Linked DNA regions of Homo sapiens: regions 1, 2, 4 and 5 are each linked to region 3. Evidence: fine-mapped expression QTL. A gene starts in region 3. Each other region holds a variant in brackets. All regions are shown on one strand. Distances are between the middles of the regions. Region 1 overlaps SLC7A8 (solute carrier family 7 member 8). Region 2 overlaps RBM23 (RNA binding motif protein 23). Region 3 holds the start of SLC7A8 (solute carrier family 7 member 8). Region 4 overlaps SLC7A8 (solute carrier family 7 member 8). Region 5 overlaps SLC7A8 (solute carrier family 7 member 8).

Region 1 (4,116 bases), 29 kb after region 3:
GTGGTACTTGGAGCTTTGGGGGAAAGAAAAAAGGGCATCTCTGTTATAAGAGTTCAGCAAGTTGTGCTCACTTTAGCGGCACATATACTAAAATTGGAGCAGTACAGAGAAGATTAGCATGGCCCCATGTACAGATGACATGCAAATTCACAAAGTGTTCCTTATTAAAAAGAGAAAAATATCCGGGCGCAGTGGCTCATTCCTGTAATCCCAGCACTTTGGGAGGCCGAGGAGGGCGGATCACCTGAGGTCGGGAGTTCAAGACCAGCCTGGCCAATGTGGAGAAACCCTGTCTCTACTAAAAATACAAAATTAGCCGGGCGTGGTGACATATGCCTGTAATCCCAGCTACTCGGGAGGCTGAGGCAGGAGAATCGCTTGAACCCGGGAGGCAGAGGTTGCGGTGAGCCGAGATCGTGCCATTGCACTCCAGCCTGGGCAACAAGAGCGAAACTCCATCTCAAAAAAAAAAAAGAAAAGAAAAGAAAAAAGAGTTCAGCAAGTTTAAGTACAAGCTACCCTTGGAATTGGGTTATAACTGAACCGTTTTGGGGGAATTTTGCAGCCTGGGTCCAGGTTTATAGAATTTAGTGAACACCAACAGAGCCTACAAGCCTTCTGGTCCAAGAACCAACTAAACCTCACAGGATCCACACCCTGTCTTCCAAGACTGAAATATGATGGAGGGTCAGGCTAGCCCTCCTGGGCTCAGTGCAGACTCAACAGAACCCATTCTCATCCACCTTGCTCCATGTCTCGGGGGACATCAGCCCTGAGAATTGGTGTGTGAGATAGCAATTTTTCAGGCCCAGGCTGAAAAAGTAATGAGTAGGATTAAAATAGGGTTCCCCAGGGTGGCATGGCAGGCCACCCTGGATTTCTTGGTGTCCAGTTTTTCGCTTCTCCCCGATCCAGGCCAGCTGAGGAGCCATGTTTAGCTCATGCTGAAGAGAGAACTACTCAGCTCTTGGAAAATGCTGAGCTGGGTATTCCTGCCTCTTGGCTGAGCTAAATACTGGGTGGTGATTCAGCAGAAACCCCAGCTCCAGCAGCTGGCGCAGGAGCTAACAGGATAAGAAGGAAGGGGAAGAGAGAGCCAGGAAGGGAGGAGGGGAGGGGATGGGGCAGTATGGGCAGGAGCTTAGCTGGAAGTGTTTGGTAAAAGCTGTGTGCCTCCAGGAGCACTCACAGCCCTCACAGCTTCTCTGCACCCTCCTCCTCTGCTGGTGTGTCCTTGGAAGAGAGAGGCCCTTCCGGAAGGCTCAGAGCACCTCCTCTCCTTTGGAGGGGGTTCCGAGATTTCTAAAACGTTGTAAGTGCTTCGAGATGAAAAGGGCTGGAGAAGGGGAAATGTTACTATCGTGCGATAGGCAAGATCTGTTTCAAAACCACACTCCCCACTGTGCACTTTATAGAAGCTGGGATCAAAGCGCAGTTTATGAGGAAGGGCTGCTTTGATTTTTTTTTTTTTTTTTTTTTGTCTGTTGTGTGGCTTTTTGTGGGTTTTTTTTTTTTAACGTTTTTCTCTTTCACCAGTCAAGTTATATGTATAACTTTATCAGACAAGTTATGTTACATGTACAATAATCCAGGTGCGGAAGGACTTTATAATGTGGGCCCCTCACCCGCTCTAAAAAATGTCTTGAGGTGGGGGTGGGCGGGGAATAGAGAAGGATTCTAGGAGGGTTCTGTGAAGCTGGATCCGTGTCTGCCCACTCCCCCACACCTCCAGGCCTCTCTGGGTCTTTGACGAGGAAAGACTGTTCCGTGTGGCCTGCGTGGGCAGAACTGGAACCTTATCAGAGCCTTGGGTTGTGTGCGTTAGAGGTCAAACAGGCCTCCGTGTTTTCTTTGCCTAT[C/G]AGCGCCTTTTGGCAGCCGGCACTGCTTACCTCCTAGATCTGGAAACGCCTGCGGTTGGACAGGCCAAGCCGAAGCGGCTTTTCCACAATTAGAAACACGTGCTCAGTTCCTTCCACAAGCGGGGGAGGCGGCCAAGGAACTCGGTGCAGCCAATCACAGAGCCGAGCGTAGCCACACCCACGCCCCCACAGGCCCGGCTTCCCTGCCCAGCGGCTCCAACCTCCAGCCTGGGCACCCAGACCCAGAGGGCTGCTGGGAGGGACATGCCTCACCCCTTTTGCTCCAGCTGGAGGGGAGGGAGTCTGTGGGAGCTGGCCAGAGCGTGGCAGAAGGCAGAGAAGTGAACGCCCCAGCAAAAGGTGAGGCTGAGAAGCCAACCCTTCTGGCAGGCCATGACCCAGGTGAAATTTATGGCGTTTCAGAGGGCTGGGGAGCTCCATCCAGAAAGGTGCCTGTTTTGCAGGTTTGGAGAGGAACAGGGCGTTCTGATTTCTACAAAGTGGCGTCACTGCTTCCTTTTTCAGCAACCGTCTGCTTAGTACATTCCATCTTGCTGTTTTCAGTCCTGGCCTCTCTCTGTTCTGCTCCTCTCAAGCCCTTTTTCTCTCCCACTCATCTGCATTGTCCTCCCCTTGCTCTCTCCCGCCCTGTGGTTTCTTGTGCTCTTTCCCTCTCTTCTTCACCATCTGTCTTTATGGACTTTGGCAAGTCTGGACATTTTTCCCCCTTTCTACTGCCTGTTTTCACTTATCTGAACAGACAAGGAGGAGTGGCCTGGTTCTGGAAATGTTAAAGGAAAACCAAGCCTTTCCAAGCCAGTCCAGTCCACTCCTGAGAAAGGTGCAAGCCAGCGAGACCGAGAAATCCAAATGGAGTTCCGGGAGTTTGGAGGGAACATGTGACTGTGACATTGATTAAGGGGGCTGGTGGGAGGGGACCCAAGGTGGAGATCCCTGTGGGAAATGACTTTCTAAAGCCCTGGGAGCAATGGATGCACCTTTCTTGGTTTCTGAGGCATAACTGTGAAAGTCTTCCCCTTTTGCCATATTGGCATCTTCCTTCCTGCTGCACAGAAAGCAGTCCAGGCTGGGGCTAACCAGTGTCTTGGTGACAGACCCAGAGTCCCAAGTGGCACTGGCAGTAGTGACCATGGGTACCACTGACCCAAGCAGGAGGAGAGATGATGTGGGAGCGGCCAAGGGAAAGCAGAGTGATCTGTGTATAATGAAGGAAGGCGGGGCAGAGGCAGAACAAGCAACTGGGAATTGGGCTGTCCCAGTCTGGTCTTTGCTGCGAATTAGCTGGGGTCTAAATTCACTCACATATAAAATGAGGTTCTGGGGCCGCCATGGTGGCTCACAACTGTAATCCTAGCACTTTGGGAAGCCGAGTCAGGCAGATCGCTCAAGCCCAGGACTGGGAAGCTGCAGTGAGCTATGATCATGCCACTGCACTTCAGCCTGGGCGACAGAATGAGACTCCCATCTGTAAAAGAAAAATAAAATGAGGTTCTGGGTCTCTAAGGTCATTCCTGCCTTCTGATCACCCATGAGGCTGGACACAAGCCTTGGGTGGTAGGGCGCAGGCTTCAAATATTTACCTCTAGGGCCAAGAGTTGACTACAAGGAGAGTCCCAACTGGTTCATTCTTCTTAGCACTGTCCTTATAACAACCAATCCAGCCCCGTATCCAGGTGGCCCTATCCCAACCTTTACCCTGTCAGACCAGAATAGTGTGGCTCATCGAGTGGCAGCTGGCTTAGTAGAAGAAATGAGATTGGTTCAGGGATCCATGTGGGAATGTTCATTGGCTCCCTGAGGGAGGCACAAAATGACCCCCTGCTGGCCCAGCTCAATGAGAAGCCAGAGTCCTGTATCCAAAGCAAGGGAGCACCTGAAAACATCACCGGGTGTGGCGGCTCATGCCTGTAATCGCAGCACTTTGGGAGGCCAAGGCAGGTGGCTCACTTGAGCCCAGGAGTTCTAGAGACCAGCCTGGGCAACCTGGCATAACCCGTCTCTACAAAAAATACAAAAATTAGCTGGGCCTGGTGGCACACACCTCAGCTACTCAGGAGGCTGAGGTGGGAGGATCACCTGAGTCTGGGGAGGTTGAGACTGCAGTGAGCCATCATCATGCCACTGCACTCCAGCCTGGATGACAGAGTAAGACCCTGTCTCAAAAAAAAGAAAACATTGGTGGCTCATGCCTGTAATCCCAGCACTTTGAGAGGCCAAAGTGGGCAGATTGCTAGAG
Region 2 (4,095 bases), 280 kb after region 3:
TATTTTACTTTGGGTTTGTCCACTTGTCTGATTTTGCAGCTTAGCTTCATCCTCCTCCTTTAGGAACTGTCTAAATGACCCATAAACCCTGGTGCCTGAAGCTTGGACTAGCCTTCTACCCCTTGAGATGAGTGCATTGCTTGAGATCTTGGCTTTGCTCCTACACTCTGTCAGTGGCCCTGGTATGGGGGTGTTCAGGAGTTCACCCAGCTTCCCTGGTGCTGCAACTTGGCTCTTTGGGTAATAGTAACCAGGCTGCAGCTAAAAGGTTGGGGGTGTGAGGGAGGTTAGGTATGGGCTTTTAAAGACATGCTTTATAGAATTGATGTTTCTCATAACAGGGATGGGAATAGGAAATTATACTTCCCTCTGGTGCTACCCCATTTGAAGCAATTTCTGCACCGAGAAGGATCAGTTATTAACGTAGCACTATGGGGAGAATAGTGAGGCCACCTAATTATGGGCAAGCTTCACCTTTTCCTGACATTCCAACAAAATGGTTGCCAATTCCTATAACTGGTTCTTCCAGCCCCATGTGACTCCAGGCTGAGAACTGGCTGCCAGCCACAAAGTCTGATAGAAGCTTGTATTTTCTGGGCTTAAACCAGGCAGCATACACTCCCACAGTGACCCACAGGGCAGAGGGCAGTAGGTTGTATTCTGTCATTGGAATTGCTCACCTCAAAAATATCCAGTAAAGGCAAGCCATGTATAACACCTGCCTAGGAACTGTCAGTACCACATGCCAGGCCCTAAGGCAGGTAATGCTGCTAGCTAGCTAAACAAGCTAGCTGTGGTGTTGACAATTCTGTGGTGGCAAGTAACTTTTGTAACCTTTTCTCGCTCTCTGTGTGACTGAGATATGGAAAGGCTTCTGTGGGGCATTTTTGCCCTTGCATTGTTGCCTTTTGGGTCAACAACCTTGACACTTAAACAAACAGCAGACTGGGAATCCTCTTTGTACCAGTGTGTTGCTGGGTGCTGCTGATAAAAGGGACTAGAGAGTAAAGGCCTTCTGGTCAGCAGGTCACTTAGTCAACAGCTCTTGTGTGTATGTGGGGGTGTGGGTTCTGCCTTGCTGTCAGCACTAGGGTGTGTTCCCTCTTAAGCCTGGAATTAGGAGTTCCAGATTCCTAGTACTTAACTAAAATTTGGCCAGGCGCGGTGGCTCACACCTGTAATCCCAGCAGTTTGGGAGGCCAAGGTGGGTGAATCGCCTGAGGTCAGGAGTTCGAGACCAGCCTGACCAACGTGGTGAAACCCCATCTCTACTAAAAAATAAAAATAAAAAAACTAGCTGGGCATGGTGGTGGGTGCCTGTAATTCCAGCTACTCGGGAGGCTGAGGCAGGAGAATTGCTTGAACCCAGGAGATGGAGGTTGTAGTGAGCTGACATGGTGCCACTGCACTCTAGCCTCAGTGACAGAGTGACAGAGTGGGACTCCGTCTCAAAAAAAAAAAAAAAAAAAAAAAAAAAAGACTAAAACTTACTAGGATAGAGAACTGAATTAAAAGCCCAGGAGCCTTGTTCTTAGCTTGTCTTCCATTTGATATACCCATTTGTGAAATAACTTGTCAGGCTAGGTTTCCTACAATAATAAAATTTTGCATTGTTAGATTCTTAATGGAGCTGAAAGATTGAAAAGTGACTGCCATTGAGTCCATTGGAAAAGGTCCTTTTCAGAGAACCATTTTGAGGTGATGGGCCTAGGTCATATTTTCTGGGAAAGAAAAGTTTGTACCTCAGTGAGCATACAATTTTCCTGGGATAGTAGGACTAGGGAGTGTTACTGGGTCTTTGAGAGCATGTCTTTGGTGAGTAGGTGACTAAC[A/G]TGGCCTGGGTTTCTCATAGTTCTCTGATTCTGAGTGTGCCCGGCGGGCCCTGGAACAGTTGAATGGGTTTGAGCTTGCTGGTCGACCTATGAGGGTTGGCCATGTGACTGAGCGACTGGATGGTGGCACAGACATCACTTTTCCTGATGGGGACCAGGAGCTGGATCTGGGATCAGCAGGTGGACGTTTTCAGCTCATGGCAAAACTGGCAGAAGGTAAAATATCTCCGCAAGGTGAAGATTATGGGGTTGAATTTTAGATGAAGGGTTGGGGCTTAATCCCACCTTTTCTTTTCCTTTTAGGCGCTGGAATCCAACTGCCAAGCACTGCTGCTGCTGCTGCTGCCGCCGCCGCCCAGGCTGCTGCCTTGCAACTGAATGGAGCAGTTCCCTTGGGGGCCCTGAATCCAGCAGCTCTGACTGGTAGTCTTGGACATGGGAAAGGAAGGGAAGGTTTGGGGGTCTGGAAAGAAGGAGTGCGCGGTGCTTGCTCACTCACTCTGCCTGTCTTTGTTCTAGCTCTGAGTCCAGCCCTGAACCTTGCCTCCCAGTGTTTCCAGCTCTCCAGCCTCTTTACCCCCCAGACCATGTGAGTCTCAGGGTCTAGCTCATTCTAGCCTTTGATTATTCTCTTTCCTTTGGCTTCCCATTTACCTCTTCTTTCCACAGGTAAATCAGTGGCACAGTATACTGCCTCCTTGTGCCTCTGGATCCTGCCACTTCACATCTACTCTTCCATGGCCCCATTTCTCCATTTTGTGGACCAAGCCATCCTGAGGGCATGGACATTGTCTCTGAGGAAATTGGGGCCACCCTTAAGATACCAAGAAAAGCTCCTGCCCATGGTCCCACTGGAAATGGACTCTGCTGAGCAAAGCCACCAGTTGAAGAGAACAGAATCCACACCTGCATTGAATACCTGTTTCTCCATGTGTATCGTCTCTGAGATTACCTTCTTGCCCTTTCCAACACCTTAGTGATTCCTCAATTTCTCCCCCATTGGGAAGGCCATAGGGCATACTGAAGGAACTGACCTCTCTCCTTTTCCTGTACCTTTAACCTTTAGTCTGTCAAGGAAAACCCTTAGGACCTCTGAATCAAGAGGACTGAGTTTGTGGGTGAACCTTGAAGGTGCTCTTTCTGCTACAAGGGCCCTGGGAGATAGCATGGACGTGCATTGAGAAGCCAGCCTCAGACCTTAGCTTGAAGCAGCTTGAGGCCAGACCTACTGTAGCCTCAGCATCTTGCTAGGAGGCATGGAAGTGATCTATCCTGCCAGGAGGCCTCAGAGTGATCTGTCCTGCCAGGAGGTGTGAGAGTGATCTGTCCTGTGAGGCATTTAGGGGCTTTCAGGAATTTAGTAAAAGGTGGAGTATGCCTTTCCAGTATCTTCCATCTTCCTTTGTATACTTGTCCTTCCTCCCATTTCCTCCCTTTGGCCCGAGGTAGGAGGATGGAGGGAGGCTGCTACTCTACCACTTCCTGTGTGCCTCTACTGTGGCCTCAACCCTGGCAATTATAGCTACTCCCATCCCTTACCTGGGCATGTGTGAGCCCTTCTCACTGGATTTTATACCCTTGTGTCTGTGTACATAAATATATATACATATATATATACATAAAAACTTTGTACAAAAGGCAAGCCTCCTCCTTGTGGCAGCTGTTGCCCATTTGTGTGTGGTCTTTGTTGTGTGTCTGACAACTTCTCATTAGCCCAACTTATGATGTTTCTAGGGATATAAAACATTAGTAACATCATTGTGTTTATTTATTTAACCACCTTTAGAAAGAAAAATGAAAACTCACACCTGGGTGGGGTTCCCATTCTGTATCTGCATTACACTGTTGATCTATGGTTGTCTTCTCCATCTATCTTCATCCTAACTATCTCCATCCCAGCTACCCACTGGACAGAATTACCCAAACAGCCAAGTTGCAGCACCAGGACAGACTTAGACTTAACAGGCTCCTTCTCTGTGCCTAATGACAGATCTTTCCAGCAGATGGCACTATGACAGTACTGCATTCTACACTTGTTTTTTTCTAGTGGGGCGGGGCGGGGAGGGGGGGGGGTTGTGATCTTGAAGAGTTAAGTACCAGAGCTAAGCTGAGCTTTCTTAACTCTATTGGCCTTTGTACCTGCCTTTGACCCTCTTTGTAGTAGCGATCCCAATCCAATATCCAAAGGGGTTTGGGTCTTGTATAACAGCAGGGTTCTCCTGACCTGATGTCTACTGTTGTTCCTCTGTCAGTCCCCTCAACT
Region 3 (4,116 bases):
TAATTTTTGTATTTTTTGTAGAGATGGGGTTTCACCACATTGCCCAGTCTGGTCTTGAACTCCTGAGTTCAAGCACTCCACCTGCTTCGGCCTCCCAAAGTGCTGGAATTACAGGCATGAGCCACCGTGCCCAGCCCCTTTCCTAGATATTACATCGCACCAGTAATCAATGGTAATAAGCCACTTATAAATTCCAAGTGCTAAAGAAATAGAAATACTAATCTTCAGCAACTCTTCCTTTCCAACGTGTGCACCTAGTACCGCTGTATTCCAAGAACGTATTTGATCCCATAACCCCCTTAGCTTCTTAGTTCATAATTTGAGAGGGCTAAAGCTTACCATATCGTTATCAGTTTGCACTGGTTTTAGCAAGAGACCTCAAATTCATCACATTCATGTTTTATCCCACATTAAGTCTGCATCATATAAATTAGAACTACCAAATATTACTGAAAGAACTCACGTTTAAGAAGCAGAAACATTATTTGTTTTATATGGTGATGTTGAAATCGGAGCAGAAGTCTTCAAATCTGAATGTATACAAATGAATCTATCAAATTTTTCCTCAGTGCTTTCTAAGGTTGTCAGGAAAGGCTAGAGGCAAATTCGACATTTTTTCATTTCCCATGACTCATTCCCTCCCATGGAGTTTCGTGCTATATATTCCCTGCCTTGTCTGGTTTTTTTTGTTGTTGTTTGTTGTTTTTTTTTTGCTGAGTCTTTCAATTTGCTGTGTCTTGAACTAGCAAAAGGAGGAGAGGAAGTTCCTCCCAACCTTTGAAACCTCTTAATACTTGCTGAGTGATCAAGGGGGCAGATGACTGCTGATTGGACTTTACCCCATTTGAAAAAGCTTTTGCTATGATAGCTCAACAAACCTCATTTTAAGGAATTAAGTATTTATTTTCCTTAAAACCCAAAATCTTTTGGAACATTTTCCAGAAAGTGAGGCCAAATTTTTGTAGTTAGGGGTCAGTTTGGGGGAACTTAATTTTTTAGGCCCACTTTAAAATTAAATAATTTTGCATAATATATTTAATAAGGCTAAAAATAACTTTATTTTAGACTTATAGTGTTGTCCACTATATTGCTTCATGCTGTTTTTTCGAAATAATTTACAATTATAAATAGACATTGTTGCTCTCACCTTAAGGCAGCAGTTTCTGAGTGAAATTCTTCAAGAAAGTGGAGGCATCATTTCGATATGGTAATAAGCTAGTTATTCTAACATCAACAAGTATGTTTCATGATCAGCGATATACTGATAATTCCCCATGTGTGCTTTTCAAATAGTTTATAAATGCAAAAATATTAGAAGTTGCAGGATCAGGGTTTGAGTCATTTTTTTTCATGTTTCAGCCAGTCCTAAATAAGAGCTGTGAACAACAAGGCTACCTGGTGATTTTGTTTTTTATCTTTTTGTATGTGCATGTGGTTTTTCTGGCTTTTTGTTTTGTTTTGTTTTTGAGACAGGGTCTTGCTCTACCTCCCAGGCTGGAGTGCAGTGGCGTCATCATAGCTCACTGCAGCCTTGACCTCCTGAGCTCAAGCAATCCTCCAGCCTCAGCCTCCTGAGTAGCTAAGACTACAGGCCTGCACCACTGCACCCGGCTAATTTTAAAATTTTTAGTAGACGGGGTCTCGCTCTGTTGCACAGGCTGGTCTCAGACTCCTGGGCTCACGTGATCCTCCCCTGTCAGCCTCCCAAAGCGCTGGGATTACAGGCGTGAGCCACCGCGCCTGGCGATTTTGTTTCCTCTGTACTCTTCGTAGCTCACAATTACGCTAAAAGAACCTTTTTCCCATTGTTAATTCCTTCCATTTCCCTCCCCCACCCGTCGATTCCCCCTATTTTTAGGAAACTCGAAGATGATGTCCTTTCAACGTTCTCTCCTGTATTCTCAAATACAGGATCCAGTCCTAAATATTTTTTAATACATTGGCTAGTTTATTTCTGATGGCATTAAAAGTATCGGCACAACTGTTCCCTGATTTATAAAGCTCACAGATGCTGTATGACCTGTAACATTATACTAGCTAATGAGCTCTCCCGGAACAGTTGACGTGGAAGGAGTTTACTTCCACTTGGTTGCAAGGAGAAAGATGGAGAAAGCGAGAGACGATTGCAAAAAGAAATAACTTAGTCCATTTTCTCAGTGCTGTTTGGGGGCTTTGTGCTAATACTTAAATTGCAGAGGAGGGAGGAGACGGGACTGAGGATGGAGGGGAGCAGAGGAGGCAGGGGCGGAGCCTCGGCGGGCGAATAAAACCCCTCGCTAAAGAGAAGCACGTTAGTGTGTGGAGAAGCCACTCTCCCGAAACCAGAGGGATGGGGCCGGCTGTGCAGTAGAACGGGGATCGAAAAGAGGAAAACAAGGGCACGAAGACCAGCGAGAAAGAAGAGGACACCTGGGAAAGGCGGAAGCAGAAGACGGGGAAGGGAAAAGAAACCCAAAGCAGGTGGAAACCAGATCTAGAGCAACACCGTCAGGTTCACAGTTTGTTTTTCTAGAAGAGAAGAAAGTACCTGAGGATTGCTCTTTTTTCCTACCGTTAATGAAAACTACTTTTGTCTTCATCATAAAAGAAAAAACTAAGGGGAGGTAAAGGCAGTCTCCTGTTTTATTAGGGGGAGAGGTGAAGGGAAATCCAGGCTCACTTTCTGAATAAGCCACTGCCTGGTGCACAGAGCAGAACCATCCTGGTTTCTGAAGACACATCCCTTTCAGCAGAATTCCAGCCGGAGTCGCTGGCACAGTTCTATTTTTATATTTAAATGTATGTCTCCCCTGGCCTTTTTTTTTTTTTTTTTTTTTAGCAACACTTTTCTTGTTTGTAAACGCGAGTGACCAGAAAGTGTGAATGCGGAGTAGGAATATTTTTCGTGTTCTCTTTTATCTGCTTGCCTTTTTTAGAGAGTAGCAGTGGTTCCTATTTCGGAAAAGGACGTTCTAATTCAAAGCTCTCTCCCAATATATTTACACGAATACGCATTTAGAAAGGGAGGCAGCTTTTGAGGTTGCAATCCTACTGAGAAGGATGGAAGAAGGAGCCAGGCACCGAAACAACACCGAAAAGAAACACCCAGGTGGGGGCGAGTCGGACGCCAGCCCCGAGGCTGGTTCCGGAGGGGGCGGAGTAGCCCTGAAGAAAGAGATCGGATTGGTCAGTGCCTGTGGTATCATCGTAGGTGAGTTCCATTCCTTCCCGCGGACCCCTCCTCTCCCCTCTGGTGGTCCTCCTGTGAGATCTTAACCCTTCGAAAGCATTATTGTTCTTCCTATTCCTTAGAAAAGGATTGTCAGTCACCTGAGCTGTAACTCACCTCCACTGGTCAAGTTTGAGAGGCATAGGAAATACATCATACATCTCTTCCTCCAAACCAGGCAAAGATTCTGCCCAGTGTTCATAGAATGGAGCAAATCGTGGTCAGAAACCCGGCTGATGATTAGCATTGCCTGGGAACTCCTTAAAAATACAGGTCCTGGTCTCGACACTTGGAGGTTCTAGTTCAATAGGTTTAAGGAGGGACTGAGGGACCTGAACAAGTTTGTATGCAGCTATTATTCCCAGGCTGGGGATGGGCTTTTAAGGTATATTTGGTAGCTATTTTGCAGTTTTATGTTAAATGAAACTATGGGATAGGTATTAAAAATAGCAAGAGCAATGCCCTGCCTTTTTATTTTAGCGTTTTCCACCTTATGCAGCACTTTTACTGTGTGAAGTAGCTGTGACAGGGCTGTTATTCCCATTTCACAGATGGGGAAGTTATGGAAGAAAAGAGGGGACAGATTGTGCCTCTCGGTAAGTGGAGAGTTTGCAGTTTCTCCAGTTGCCTGGTGGGGTCCACCTGTTTCTTAACAGCCACGGAGGACCCGGTGAAGCTCTCAGAGGGAATCAGGAGTAACTAGAATGTGTAGAATATGGAGTTGAGGAGGAACTGATGGGTAAAATATGTGTCCTAGCTGGGAGGTGCTGAAGGTGGGGAACCTGGGTGGCCCCAAGAGTGCCAGTGCAGGCCACTCAAACCCCCTGAATGTACTTTGCAGGGCAGGAGTCCCAAATACAGCTTCGTCTCTAGACAGCACATCCTCTTTCCAGAGAAGCCTTGGAGAT
Region 4 (4,116 bases), 47 kb after region 3:
CTTGCACAAGACATGCCTTTTCTCTCTGCCTTCTCCTCCAGAAGCAGAAGTCAGGTGTGCTCTTTGGGGAAAGAGACCATGCTGGTGCAAGGGGTTGGGATCCTTCACATCTAAGAAGGACCTGGGAGGCACCTTGCTCCCTCACCTGGCATCAGGCTGGGCCACCACCCAGCCTGCCAGTCTCTTCACTGGCCTTATCTCAAAAGACTGTAAAGAAAGAGGTCCTCCCATCTCCTGGGGCAGCCTGTTCTTATGACCAACAGCCTTCTATTCTGAACAATCTCTCCTTGGTAATGTGCTGTAAACCTGGCTCAGGGAATATAGAAAAGGCTGGTCTCCTGCATTGTATAGTCCTTAAATACATGAAGATTCATCTATAGCTTCACAGCCTTTTCTTTCTCAGACTAAGGAGGGGCTCATTCCTATTATTTTACCCCCAACTCATCTGTTTTGATGAATTGAGAAATTCTCACCCTGTGATTCTGGATTAATCCCTATTTTGCAGTTGGAGACAGAGGCTCAAAAATCATAAACTTTGCTCAAGGTCTCACAGCTCCTAGCTGGAGGGCAAGGATTTGAGCCTGGATCTGCCTGACAGATCTGCCTGACAAGCCTGTGCCCTTCCCTGTGCTGGAGAAATCATATAATGTATGTAAGGCCTGGATCACACCACCTGGCTTCCAATGCTGGCCCCTCCACTCGCTGGGTGTGTAATCTTAGGCAAGCTACTTAATCACTATGTGACTCAGTTCCTCACCCATAAAACAAGATTAGTAAGTGTTAGTTCATTATTATTATTACCAGTGTGTACTACCTCCTTCAGTTAATTAGCCTAAAACATGCATTAACCACCCTGTGTAGGGGTCCACCCTTGAGAGGGTGGGGGCAATTAAGAAGCTTGGCGAGAGAGAATTAGCAAGGGTGGAGATAGGAGAAACGGTTTCCCAGAGTGAAGTGGGAGCTGAGGGGTCGGGGAGTGGTGACCTCTCCTTTGCTTATCTCCTTGGTTCCTCTCCCAGACTTTTGGAGAGAAGCTCCTAGGAGTCATGGCCTGGATCATGCCCATTTCTGTTGCCCTGTCCACATTTGGAGGAGTTAATGGGTCTCTCTTCACCTCCTCTCGGTGAGTGCTGCCTGGGCCCTTCCCCGGCCAGGGGCCACTCTGCTGTGCACTTTGCTATTTGTATATGGTGGGCTTGTCTCTGTCAGCAGGGGTCTGTGTGGGCATCTGGATGTTGGGCTTGCAGAGGGGTGACTGCTCACATGAGGGCGTGTGTGTCAGTGTGGATGCTGAGGAGTGTGTGCTGCTCACGTGGTCACCTGCGATGTGTGTGGCATACGGGTCCTAGGTGCTTCACATGTAGTGGCCTGTCTCATTTCAAAAGGAGCAGAAGACAGAGGAGGCCGCCAGCCTGCCTGACGCCGCCCCCAGTCAGTGGCTGTGGTTGGCAGCAAGGCAGTATCTTGGCTGCAGTCCTGTACCTGTAAACAGGCTGCTGCTGGCTAGAAAAGAACCCCATTTGGAAAGGGACCAAGAGGGAGACTTGTGCCTGGGGCCTCTGGGTCTGGCCTCCCATGAATGTTCTGGAACTAGCCTGCAGGTGGGATGGCTTCACCCTGATTGCCCCAAGAATGCAGAGCTCCTCCCTGCTCAACAGAGAGGTGGCTGTAGAGGCCTTTTTGAGGCCACCCATGAGACTCAGGTGGAGAATGTGAAGTGAGAGGGTGGGGAAAAGTGGAAAGCAAACATTTGTCCAAAGAAAGAGCCTTTTATCCGTGACCCCCACCCCAGAGCACTCTCAGAAGCCAGAAGTGCGAGCGGGTCCACGAGTCCCAGGTCCTGCCTCCATGCATCCAGGGACCCGGCCCTTTCTTTTGCTGTCTTCAGAAGGGGCTGTTGAGGCTAGCAGATGTTGAATGACTTCCATTTGTGTGGTTCAAGGGATCCTCCCAGGTTCTTAGAAAGCACCCCCTGCCCTCAGAAAGTACAGTCCTGCTCCAAAGATGAGTCCGTGAGTTCAGCTGCTTCCAAAGCCGTCACATCAGGAAGAGTTCCTGTGAAATAACAAGGGAGTGCAATGTTTTTAGGACCCAGGGCTGGAAAGAGGTGGTGTGGGTGTCCCCTGTACCCCGGGACCCTGTGACGCTCACCCACAGCAACCTCGTGTGCATGTTACACAGGAGCAGTGGCCACACGGAGGCCCCGCCGAGGCCAAGCGGTGGAGGAACAGTGACCCGTGAGGCTCCCTGAGATCTATTGGAGGAGAGTGACTGGCTAC[A/G]GTCACTTTAGAGTGGGGTTTGTCCCTCAGGCAGGCCTAGCAGCGGTCTGCGTGCATGTGGTCTAGTCGTGTGTGCATGCAGGAAACGGTGGCGCATGGTGTGCTCCACCTCCGATTCAGAGGCCAGACCTCACCCACCCAGGCCTCCCCTGCTCATCTTTCCAGTTCCTTCTTCCTTCCTTCTCCTTCCCTCCTTCTTTATCTCTCTGTCACTCCTTTGTGTTCTCGGGTAGGGAGAGGATGATCCTTCCTGAAGAGTCAGAGTGTGTGGATGTGTGTTATGCTTAATGTCATCGTCTCCTCCGTTATCGGCTAGCTGGGCAAGGACTGTCTCTTGTGAACCTGACACTTGCAAATGCTGTTGGATCTGGACAATTACACTTGGTCTTGTCTGCATGTGGAGGGGGGACGTGAGTGCAGGACCCTGGCTATGTGCACGATGAGCCCCACAGAGCACCTGGTGCATGAGACTGCCCTGTAGAGGGGCAGTAGCATGGGAGAGGGGACAGGGATGTGTATGGCTGCATGAAACTAGTGACACCGGCCTAGGGAGTTCATGATGGTTACTGCTTATGGGTACTTGGGGATACAGTCAGCTCCCACACTTCTGATTAGCTGCTGCTGTTCGCTTCAGTCTACTCCATACACAAATTACAAAGTAAATGACTATTCTCCTCTGAACTCCCAGTGTGCTGAATATGTGCCTTTTTGTTCCTATCAAGCTGTACCCTGCCTGTCATCCCTTAGGTGGGCCTTTCCCCAGAAAAAAGAAAAAAGTGGTCCAATTTGCACTGACATGTAAATTACTGTTGACAGCTTCTAATATTCACTTTTCTCTTAGGAGAGTAAAAGGGAAGGAGGGCTGATTTTTATGTTCAAGTTTCATATTCATATGTATATAATAGATGTACATATTTTCAAGCTACAGATGATGTTTCAATACATTGATATAATGTGTAAAAATCAAATCAGAGTAATTGAGATATCCCATCTCCTTCAATATTGTCTTTTCTTTATGCTAGGAACATTCAAATTATTCTCTTAAAATTTTTCTTTTTTTTTTAAGGCAGAGTCTCGCTCTGTCGCCCAGGCTGGAGTGCAGTGGCGCAATCTTGGCTCACTGCACACTCTGCCTCCCGGGTTCACGCCATTCTCCTGCCTCAGCTTCCCGAGTAGCTGGGACTACAGGCGCCTGCCACCACGCCTGGCTAATTTGTTGTATTTTTAGTAGAGACGGGGTTTCACCATGTTAGCCAGGACGGTCTTGATCTCCTGACCTCGTGATCCGCCCGCCTCAGCCTCCCAAAGTGCTGGAATTACAGGCGTGAGCCACCGCACCTGGCCTAAAACTTTTCTTTTTAAAAATAACTTTTATGTCCAGGCGCAGTGGCTCACACCTATAATCCCCAGCACTTTGGGAGGCTGAGGCGGGCGGATCACAAGGTCAGGAGTTTGAGACCAGCCTAGCCAATATAATGAAACCCCACCTCTACTAAAAAAAATACAAAAATTAGCTGAGCGTGGTGGCAGGTGCCTGTACTCCCAGCTACCCAGGAGGCTGAGGCAGAAGAATCACTTGAACCCAGGAGGCGGAGGTTGCAGTGAGCCGAGATCGTGACACTGCACTCCAGCCTGGGCAACAGAGCAAGACTCTGTCTCAATAAAAATAAAAAATATTAAAAAAATAATAACTTTTAGGGCTGGGCGTGGTGGCTCACGCCTGTAATCCCGGTGCTTTGGGAAGGCAAGGTGGAAGGATTGCTTGAGCCCAGTAGTTCCAGACCAGCCTGGGCAACAAGGCAAGACCTTGTCACTACAAAAAATTAGCAAAGAAAAA
Region 5 (4,116 bases), 38 kb after region 3:
TTCTGCCTTCAACTGCCCCCCATCCCAAAGAGATATGCTGTCATTGCCAAGGGGAGGAAGTGAAGGAGAGACTTCTGTAATTCCTGGAGATCAAAGTCTGGGATCAGAGCTGGGATGGGGCTGAGGGCACCTTCTCTGTAGGGAACCCAGCCCTCCACAGTGAGCAAGCCAGTTGCAGGTCTGCAGCGAGGACTCTGAATCCCTCTGCCAGTCCTGCAGAAAGCATTGAGCCCATCTCTCCTGCTTGGCAGCTGGGAGGCCCTGGACTCTGGGCAGTGTTCCAGGTTGCTAGAATCTGAGTTTTCCTCCTCCTGCCTGACTCATTATTTGTATCTCTTCTGTCACCTTGATGTTGAGTTCTTCAAACTGGGTGGATTAAGTAACCAGCCCCTGACTTCAGCATCTTCTTGAACTCTTGTCTTCTTAATAGTCTTTCATCTTATTTTTTACCCAGGAAGCAAGAAAGAAAGAGGGGAGGAAATGCCCAAAAAATACATACAAGCCTGGAATTCCATGAGGGCCTCTAAAGAAGCAGTAACCACTCCCGCAACTAGGTTACAACGGACAAGAACCAGTCTTATGACTTTTTATTTTGTCCAGTTGGACCAGGATTATAAATTTCTCCATGTTGCCAGGGTCTCCTCCTCCTATAGAAGGCATCTCTGATTCCCCTGGGCTGAGTTAGTGGTTCCTCATAGATGCCCACTAGCTTCCGTGAATAGCTTTGCCATCACCTCGTTGTTTTGTGGGCATCTCTTACTTCACCCGTCGTCCCTGTTATACTGCCAACTTCCTAAAGGCAGGGACTTGTGTCTTATCAATAACCTCCCCACCAGCTAGAATGCCTAGTACATGTAGGCCCTGCATGAATGACGGATGAGTAGATGGGTGGATGGATAGACAGATGGATGGATGGATAGATGATGGATGGTTGGATGGGTGGGTGGATGGATGGATGATAGATGGATAGATGGGTGGGTGGATGGATGCATGGATGATGGCTAGATGGGTGGATGGGTGAATGGATCTATGATGGATGGATGGATGGATGGATGGATAAAAAGCCCCTCACATTTCAAAGCTGCTATGGCCAATGATCCTCATCTACATGTGGCTTCCCTGAGGTCACTGTGTCTCAGGAATGCGGAATTCAGGGTCTAGCCGAGAAGAGAGGGTTCTAGAATATCATCGTCCGCAACAGACAAGTGCCAAGCAGTAGCTAGCCAGCAGCAGGGCTCCTGACCGGGGCAGGAGCTTGGCGAGCACCCACTGACCTTTCCTCTCTGGGTGGAGGCTCAGGTTTCAGCCTGCTGTGAGGGAAGCTGTCTTGTGGTACCAGGAGACTGATACCCTCTTTCCCCTCAGTCACATGGTATGATCACCCAACTGCAGGGTGAAGGGCCAGATCTGGGGCCTGCAGCCATTGTTCCAAGGAGATTAGGTGTCACAGGCAGCCTGCCTATCCCCACCTCATTCTCAGAATTTCTTCTTGTTTCTGAAAGATTACTGTGAAGGTGAAAGGTTAAATATTAGTCAAGGGCTGAGTTCTTGGGAAGTGAT[G/A]GAGATAAGGTTAGGCAAGACAGAAGATAGCCACAGATAGGTTATTTTACAAAGCATCCCTATCTCTGTTACCCCAGGAAGACCACAGAGCTGATAGTTTGAAGGTGTCTTTCTGTGACTCAGTAAGGTCCATCTTGTAAAGAGATGATTTCATGTTTTCTTTCCCAGCACACAGGGAGGTGGTCTGCTTGGGGGAGGAGGAATTTCTTTGAGTTGTCCTGCTCTGCCCTTATTTTCCTCAAGCACTTTCTGTCATTTCCTCGCCCTCCCCTCTCCTCCCCTTGGAGAAGGATTTTCTTCCCTGAGATCAAGATCCAGTTCCTTGTTGTGTAATCCTTACCTATCCCTGAGGCTTATGGGGTTTGTTTCCTAATCTTCCTTCCTTCCTTTTATCAATCTCCTTTATCCTTGAGTTACTGCTGTGTCTGCCTGAATTCCTGGGTGAAGGGGCGCAGCCTTGTACCTTGCATGCCTTGGGGCCTAGGGAAGAAGCTGAGATCACAGACCCAGTTGTTTAGAGTGACTTAGGTTGGCTTGTCACCAGGCACATGATCCTGAAATCCTTATTGAATTGAGTAAGACAAACCAAATGTGTATTTATCAGGATGTCAGTCCGTCTGGAACATTTGAGTATTTACAAAGTGTTCTCCCTGCTCGGGCACTTAAAATCCTTCCTCTGACAACATGTTTTGCTTCTCCTTGCATGACATCATCTTGGATAATAGCTCTTCCATGAGGAGTCAGGAGCTTCTGCTCTTGAAGTCAAGTTCCCTGTTGCCCTTTGGCAACATGAAGCCAACTAGGGATTGTGTCTCCTTTTGATGGGGTTCCTGGGGAGCAGAAGAGGTTGATGTGCGCTGTGGAATGTGTAGACTGAGATGATATTGGAAGGCTAATGAATTGTGATATTTTAAAATTCATTTATTAAATACTTGCTGAGCATCTACTATTTGCAGGCGCCAATGATAAGTCCTGAGATTTAAAAACATGAAAACATTTACTTGCCCTTGGTGTCTTAAAAAAAAAAAAATTTTTTTTTCTTTTTTTTTTGAGATGTGGTCTAGCTCTGTCACCCACGCTGGAGAACACTGGCACAATCTCGGCTCACTGCAACCTCCGCCTCCCGGGTACAAGTGATTTTCCTGCCTCAGCCTCCTGAGTAGCTGGGATTACAGGCGCGCCACCACCACGCCCAGCTAATTTTTGTATTTTTGGTAGAGACGGGTTTCACTGTGTTAGCCAGACTGGTCTCGAACTCCTGACCTCATGATCTGCCCACCTTGACCTCCCAAAGTGCTGGGATTACAAGCGTGAGCCACCATGCCCGGCCAGAAGCAGGTCATTTTAATACAAAGAAATGCATCCCGGCCGGGCGGTGGCTCCTGCCTGTAATCCCAGCACTTTGGGAGGCTGAGGATCATGAGATCAGGAGATCGAGACCATTCTGGCTAACACGGTGAAACCCTGTCTTTACTAAAAATACAAAAAATTAGCTGGGTGTGGTGGCGGGCGCCTGTAGTCCCAGCTGAGGCAGGAGAATGGCGTGAACCCAGGAGGCAGAGCTTGCAGTGAGCCGAGATCGCGCCACTGCACTCCAGCCTGAGCGACAGAGTGAGACTCCGTCTCAGAAAAAAAAAAAAAAAGAAAAAGAAAAAAGAAATACATCCCAACATTAGATATAAACAAAGTGGTCTGGGATTGTTCTAGAGAGAAGGAACAAACTTTGTTCCTCGTCTACAAAACACAGCTGATATATCTTCCCTTGCAGGCATGTTGTTAGGAATAAATAACATGCTGAATTATAGAGATTCACAGAACAGGTGACATTTAAGCTGGATCTTGAAAGAGGAGAAGGGGTTTGCCAGGTGGAGATGGCGCACAAAGGAAGGTTACAGACGGTTAATGTCAGGACCATCCTACCCTAACCAAATGTTCTCAGCATCAAATAAGGTTGGGAAATACTTGGAAAGTAGAAGTACCATATAAGAATACGGTACTGATAAAACTTGATCAGCCATTCAAGTGAAGTCAGAGCGACCACACCACCCAGCTTATTTTTAAAATTTTTTGTAGAGAATTACAACTCCCCATGCCACCAAAGAAGATTTGTAAATGGATGGTAAATAAGCACATGAAGAGTTGCTCAACATCATTAGCCATTAGGGAAATGCAAATCAAAACCATAATGAAATACAACTACATGCCTATTAGCCAAAAAAAAAAAAAAAAAAAAAATTGTGTTTAAACTGACAATACCAAATGCTGGGAAAGATACAGAGCAACAGGAACTCTGACATGAGAGTAGGAATGCAAAATGAGACAGCCACTGTGGAAGACAGTTTGGCAGTTTCTTAGAAAGTTAAACACATTTACTCTATGGCCCAGGATCTCATTCCTGGGGATTTACTCAAGAGCAATGAAAACCCCACTCAAAGATCTCTACAATCCACAAAAAGAAAAAAGACATCTACACAAGTATTTATCACAACTCTATTCATAATAGTCCCACACTGTGAGCAACCCAAATGTCTATGGAAAAACAAACAGATACCTTTA

Evidence for each region. PIP is the estimated chance that this variant, and not a neighbour inherited with it, causes the effect.
Region 1: its variant is fine-mapped to the expression of SLC7A8 in whole blood (TOPMed, PIP above 0.99).
Region 2: its variant is fine-mapped to the expression of SLC7A8 in tibial artery (GTEx, PIP 0.90).
Region 4: its variant is fine-mapped to the expression of SLC7A8 in cerebellar hemisphere (GTEx, PIP above 0.99). The same link has a PIP of 0.9 or more in caudate, cerebellum, nucleus accumbens and putamen.
Region 5: its variant is fine-mapped to the expression of SLC7A8 in whole blood (TOPMed, PIP 0.97).

Annotation. Positions count from the first base shown.
Region 1 is chr14:23,152,362-23,156,477 of GRCh38, reverse strand. The region is part of intron 3 of SLC7A8 (solute carrier family 7 member 8); the gene reads left to right. It also overlaps the pseudogene RNU6-1138P. Among named protein-coding and RNA genes, the nearest start is that of SLC7A8, 29 kb to the left of the region's middle. The variant C/G (reference allele first, on the strand shown) is at 1,860.
Region 2 is chr14:22,900,140-22,904,234 of GRCh38, reverse strand. RBM23 (RNA binding motif protein 23) reads left to right here. Exons shown (of 14, transcript NM_001077351.2): 11 at 1,853-2,048; 12 at 2,136-2,255; 13 at 2,352-2,421; 14 at 2,502-4,095. The coding sequence ends at 2,505. Among named protein-coding and RNA genes, the nearest start is that of RBM23, 17 kb to the left of the region's middle. RefSeq lists enhancers at 3,691-3,760, 3,778-4,095. The variant A/G (reference allele first, on the strand shown) is at 1,833.
Region 3 is chr14:23,181,838-23,185,953 of GRCh38, reverse strand. SLC7A8 (solute carrier family 7 member 8) reads left to right here and starts at 2,294. Exons shown (of 11, transcript NM_012244.4): 1 at 2,294-3,190. The coding sequence starts at 3,040. It also overlaps a transcript of RNF212B not described here.
Region 4 is chr14:23,134,928-23,139,043 of GRCh38, reverse strand. SLC7A8 (solute carrier family 7 member 8) reads left to right here. Exons shown (of 11, transcript NM_012244.4): 7 at 1,020-1,123. Among named protein-coding and RNA genes, the nearest start is that of CEBPE, 18 kb to the right of the region's middle. RefSeq lists a silencer at 1,150-1,444. The variant A/G (reference allele first, on the strand shown) is at 2,280.
Region 5 is chr14:23,144,021-23,148,136 of GRCh38, reverse strand. All of the region lies in intron 3 of SLC7A8 (solute carrier family 7 member 8), which reads left to right. Among named protein-coding and RNA genes, the nearest start is that of CEBPE, 27 kb to the right of the region's middle. The variant G/A (reference allele first, on the strand shown) is at 1,561.